2 separate regions of the Homo sapiens genome follow, and region 1 is linked to region 2. The links come from fine-mapping of genetic effects on gene expression. A gene starts in region 2. The other region holds a variant in brackets. All regions are shown on one strand. Distances are between the middles of the regions.

The links. PIP is the estimated chance that this variant, and not a neighbour inherited with it, causes the effect.
Region 1: its variant is fine-mapped to the expression of AKR7A2 in lung (GTEx, PIP above 0.99). The same link has a PIP of 0.9 or more in sigmoid colon and substantia nigra.

Annotation. Positions count from the first base shown.
Region 1 is chr1:19,283,593-19,286,554 of GRCh38, forward strand. AKR7A3 (aldo-keto reductase family 7 member A3) reads right to left here. Exons shown (of 7, transcript NM_012067.3): 2 at 2,593-2,780; 3 at 2,296-2,400; 4 at 1,426-1,522; 5 at 1,094-1,193; 6 at 404-533. Among named protein-coding and RNA genes, the nearest start is that of AKR7A3, 3.7 kb to the right of the region's middle. RefSeq lists an enhancer at 35-910. The variant C/T (reference allele first, on the strand shown) is at 1,541.
Region 2 is chr1:19,310,923-19,313,422 of GRCh38, forward strand. It overlaps AKR7A2 (aldo-keto reductase family 7 member A2), which reads right to left and starts at 1,222. Exons shown (of 7, transcript NM_003689.4): 1 at 905-1,222. The coding sequence starts at 1,202. SLC66A1 (solute carrier family 66 member 1) reads left to right here and starts at 1,404. Exons shown (of 8, transcript NM_001040125.2): 1 at 1,404-1,967. RefSeq lists an enhancer at 813-1,312 and silencers at 904-1,543, 1,624-1,713.

The DNA.
Region 1 (2,962 bases), 27 kb before region 2:
GCTGAGGAGGGCGAATTGTCTGAGTTCAGGAATTTGAGACCAGCCTGGGCAACATGGTGAAACCCTGTCTCTACTACAAATACAAACAATTAGCTGGGCATGGTGGCGCACGCCTGTAATCCCAGCTACTGGGGAGGCTGAGACAAGAGAGTTGCTTCGGCCCAAGAGGCAGAAGTTGCAGTGACCCGAGATCATGCCACTGCACTCCAGCCTGGGTGACAGAGTGAGACTCTGTCCCCCCAAAAAAAAAACATAGAAAAAGACCAGTGGGAAGAATGTTTGTGAGAGTTGAAAGAAAGAGAAATTTCAGAGGAATCGATAAACAAATGTTTCAGCCTTCATCTAAAGATATTGCTGGTTCCCCTGGAAGGGAAGAAGCTGAGCGCACAGGGTCACTGGTTACCTGCAGCTGTGAGTGGTGGTACATCCACCGGAGGGTGGCCGAGGTCATGCTGGGGGCGCTGGCGCCATACGCGGCCTGCAGGGCCTTCTCCACCAGGGCAATGCCCTCAAAGTGGTGCTCCTTCCAGTAGCTGGGAAGGGGGGACGGTGGCACAGGTGTCAGGGCCACATTGGGAGCCACAACCAAAGAGCCAACCAGGGCCACTGTCCCACCCCACACCCTGCAGCCCTGAGGGGCAGGTGTTCTCTCTAGCCATGGGTCTCCCACTTTGCTGGGCAAGAGAACCACTCAGGATGCTGGGCCCCTCAGCAGAGACCTCAACAAATCTTTATTCCTGAGGACTCATCAGCCTGCTCTTATTTTCCTTAGGGACACAAAGGCCGCTAAGATGGGTCAGGACTCAGCCCCAGGCCTCCTGGACCTCCCTCCAGAGCTCCTTCTTTCCTTCCTAGCAGGTGATTGCTCAGGAAAGAGCAACGACTTCAAGACCCCGAGGTCCAGGGAGTCTCCTTTCCTCCTGGAGGTCCCAAGACAACAAGAAAACCGATGGAGGGTTTGGAAATTCCCGAAGAAATTCAGGGGAGTAGGTGCAGCAGCGAGGAAAGGCCTTACCCCAGGAGCAGCCCAGGACTTCATTCCACATAAAGCTGACCCCACCCCAGCCATCCACACCAAGCACCCACAGCTTACCGATTCCTGTACATCTCTGCCCAGGTATTCCCAAAGAAGCGGCCCACGGGCTGTTTCCCATTCTTGTCCTCATACTTGTACTTGCCGGTCAGCAGGCCCCCTGAGGGAAAGCAGCAATCAGCCCCGGGGCCTAGAGTGCCCCAGAAGCTGCCACATCCCTCAGGGCTCTGGTCTAGGGGAGGGGCAGGGACCCAGGAGGGCTGAAGATGCAGCCTTTACGTCTTTGACCTCAGAGGTCAAAGTTTGTCAAACCCTCCTTGCTTCCCAGGTCCTGGGCTGGGCATCTGTGGGTCGGGAATAGGCTGAGACAGGGCCAGGAATGCTCCACGTACCAGCCAGAGGGTTGAAGGCATAGAACCTCAGTCCAAAGTGCCTGAGGCAGGGGAAGAGCTCCGTTTCCACCTGCCGGGTGATGGCATTGTACATGCCCTGTAAGGAGAGGGGCCC[C/T]GGGGGAGAGGGTGGATGTGTCAAAAGAAGAGACTTCAAAATTACCCTTCCAGAACCCTTATTTCAGACCTTAACAATTCTAGGACTTTAACCGTCTGGGCGTATACTTATTCTAACTGGTGCTGGTGAAAGAAGCTTATGCCCATGGAAAATTCATTCATTCTGCCAACTTTCATGAGCACCAACTATGGGCTGGTTGTCAGATTTAGATTCTTAAGCCAAAAGGACAGGGTCCCTTCCCTCAAGGTTTTATAATAAGGTCAAGTATAAACAGTTATAATCAAGTCATGAGGCAATCATAATAGACTAGAAAGTTCTGTGACCAGTGCCTGGCACCAAGCAGGTGTGCAAATATTTGTGCAATGAATCATGAGGAGGTAAACAAGGACCTGAGGTCTCAGGGTCTTCTGGGCCCATCTAGAAAGGCTTCCAGAGGAAGAGACACGTATGTGAGACCTGAACCATTCTCTCACGGAAGGGGCGGTGGTGGGGGAAGGGCTTGTTCCAGGCTGAGTGCAGGGGAAGGTAGGGAAGGAAGGGTCCAAGGTGCACAGATAGGCAGGAAGGAAGCAGATGCCCAGTGGCCAGCCTGAGGAGCTTGAATGGCATCCTGAGGGTACCTGGGAGCCATCTGCAGGCTTTCAGCAGGGGAGTGGCTGCTATGCAGAGGGCACAGGGGGCAGTCAGAGGGGCAAAGACAGCCCAGGATGAGCAGGAGTTCTGGAGACCTTGGCCTCTGCAGCCCTGGCTCTCACCTGGTACACAGTGGGCAGGATCCAGCCGTTGCTCTTGCAGAGGGTACAGATCTCGGCCACTTCCCAGGCTGCATAGTTGGAGAGGCCAAGCTCCACGAACTTGCCCTGCTCAGGTGAGGCTCCAGTCAGAACATAGTGCAGCCCAGACCAGGAAAGGGAGGCCAGGGTGGGGCCCCTGGGAGTTGGGCTGTTCCCTGCTCCACCCTGGAACAGCCCTGGTGCCTCTGCTCTCACCATTAGGATCAGGATAAGGAGAGCAGCAGTGGACCACCTCCCAGAGCTCAGGGGTCCCCTCACCTCCTGGTGCAGCTGGTGGCAGGCACGCAGTGTCTCTTCCACCGGGGTGCTGTGGTCTGGCATATGCAGGTAGAAGAGGTCCACTCGGGGACACTGCAGCCGCTTCAGTGACGTCTCCAGCTGGAACCGGAGACTGTCAGGCTTCAGGGAGTTCCCAAACAGTGGAATGGCCTTGGTATCAATTTTCACTGAGAGGAAAGAGAAATGAAATTCAGGGCCAGGCGCCGTGGCTCATGCCTGTAATCCCAGCACTTTGGGAGACTGAGGCAGGCAAATCAGAAGGTCAGGAGTTCAAGACCAGCTGGACCAACATGGTGAAACCCCATCTCTAATAAAAACACAAAAATTAGCTGGGCATAGTGGAGCCCGC
Region 2 (2,500 bases):
CAAGGGCACCAGGCTCACGAGGGACAGTCCCCTCCATCCTCCACTCAAGCCCCACCTGCCCAGTGGCCTTCCTTTCACACATCACGCACATTGCATTTCCAAACCAAGTCTTTGCACAGACTCTAATGTTCCTTTCTCTTGTTCTCCTCCAACCTACCATTGAGCCTTTAAGGCTGAGCTCCATCCAGCATTTGCTGAGCCTTCCCTAGTGCCTCTCCCCGGCCTGCAGCTCCCTAAAGTACTCTCTCTTCTGGGCTCTCCAGCAATCATTACTTCAATCTTCCTCATTAGACTCTGAACTCCCTGTGGAGGGCTGGAATCACTTTCCCTCCTATGGCCCCAAGTCAAAGCCTGGCATAGAGTGGATAGAAAGTCCCTACACCCTGACCCGTCCGCACTCCCTAACACTCCTACTCTCCCAGCCAGCCTTACGGCATCGCCACAGTTCTCCCTGAGAGAGGCAGAGGTACTGCCAGCTGCACAGGTCAAATTCTAGTGGTTAAGAAAAGGCCAGGATGAGAAAAGGGTGCCCAGGGTGTGCATGCGTGATGATGGTAACGAAGGGGTAGAGAAAAGGGGGAGAGCCTGGGTGGGGACCGGTTGTGGGCACCTGGCAGGTTTGGAGGCGGGGGCATCAATGGAGGTGGGAAGCGATGGGTCAGACCAGGCTGGGGGGAGACTCTCGCGCTGCAACTCCCAAGGGAAGGAGAGTGGGGGAAAGGAGTCAGGGCAAAGCACTGTCTAGTTGTCCCGGGGTTCCCAGAGCTGCGGGGTGGACCTGGGGTGGGGAGCGAGGGACGAATCCGTCGGTGCTGCCCGCGGCCGGGCCCGAGCGGGGTGGTGCACGGCTGGGGACAGGCTCAGCTCTACACGATGCATGGGGAGGATCTGCAGCTACTGTTACCTCTGCAGTCGCCACCGCCCAGCCCGAGCCCCAGGCCGCCCAGGATGGTCTCGGACTGGCCGTCGCTGTACATGAAGGCCGTGTCCAGTTCGGTGTGGCCGCGCTCCAGAAAGGCGCGCACGGCCGCGGCGCTGGCGGGCGCGTCCATGCGGCGCCCCATCTCCATGGTGCCCAGCACCGAGGCGACCCGCGGTGGCGGTGGCCGGGACATGGCGAGCGCGCGGGCCTCGGGCGGCGGAGAGCGAAGCGCGCAGTGGACGGCGGCGCGGGAGACTACGCGAGACGCGGCACTCAGCATAGCAGCGGCGCCTGCGCGTTGGGAGCCGGGGGCCCCGCCCATGCCGGGGAGGAGCGCGGAGGCAGTTGGGGGCGGGGACAACAGGCGCGGCCCCAGCGGCGCCTCCAGGCCCGGTCAGCCCAGCGCGCGGCGTGGGGGCGGGGCCTGCGGTTCCCGCGGGGGCGGTGGCGCGCGGTCAGCTGACCCGGCGGGCCTTGACCCAGAAGCTGGGCCCTGGCGGCGGATCTGGACGTGGTGAGCCGGACCGGGGGCAGGTGGCAAACTTCACGGCTGGGGGTCGGGGCTCCTGGGCTTCCCTGCCACATCCTTCCAGCCCTCTCCTCCGGCCGCTGGACTGTCCCGGCTCCTGCGCCCTCCTTGTGGCGCGATATCGTGGGACGAGGCTCCGGGCCGGGACTGGGTGGCCCTCGGGAATCCGCAGCCAGTGGCCCCCCACCTCAAAGGCGACCAGCGCGGCCTCTCGAGCTGGCCTGGCCAGGAGTTGCCCTGCCCCGGCCGACCGGCCCCTTGGCATCTGATGGCTTCGTTTTTCCCGGGCCGGCCGGGCGAGGGGCCCTCGCGGCGCTGGCCCCAGCAGCTGTCCTATCATTATCCCTCCAAACAGGCGGCCCGCGCCGGGCTGAGTCACCAGGAGGGAGCTGTGGCCGAGGACGCCGAGGCCTGGAGTGGGTGGTAGCCCCGAGCTGGGACGCTCCTCCCTCCACAATCTCCCCAGGTCTGCAGGGACCGAGGGCCTACACTGCCTCCTCCCACGCCGTGCTTAGGGTAGGTTTCCAAACGTGTAAATGGAGAGTCTGAGTCTGGAAGTGTGAGGGGTCCCGGGCCTGGGTCACAGGTCATGTCTAATCAACGCTTACTGAAGGCGCCTGTGTGCCCGGACGCTGGAGGGGCTACAATGAGAACAAATAATAGTCATTTTGGGCTGTTGGTGTTGAGTGCCAGTGCCAGGCACCCTTGTAATCGCTTGGCCTGGATTGTCTCATTTAACTCTGCAGTCAGCCTAGGTGGTGGGTATTGCATTATTCCCCTACTTTTCAGATGAGAACTACGAAGCTCAATCACTTGAGTTCCAGACTGGTAGGCATCGGGCAGGTCTGTTCCAGAGTGCTTTTCTCCTCAACCCTGGGCTGTTCGAGCTCACAGCTTTCTCCCCTTCCTTTCTCCTTTCCTTCCTCTTCTCTCTCTTCCACCCTTTCTCCTTTCTCACCCGTTTCCTCTCTTCTTCACTCTGTCCTTCTCTCTACCTCTCTCTTTCTCTCACTGTCTCTCAACATTTGCTGAACCTCTAGGTGTGTTTA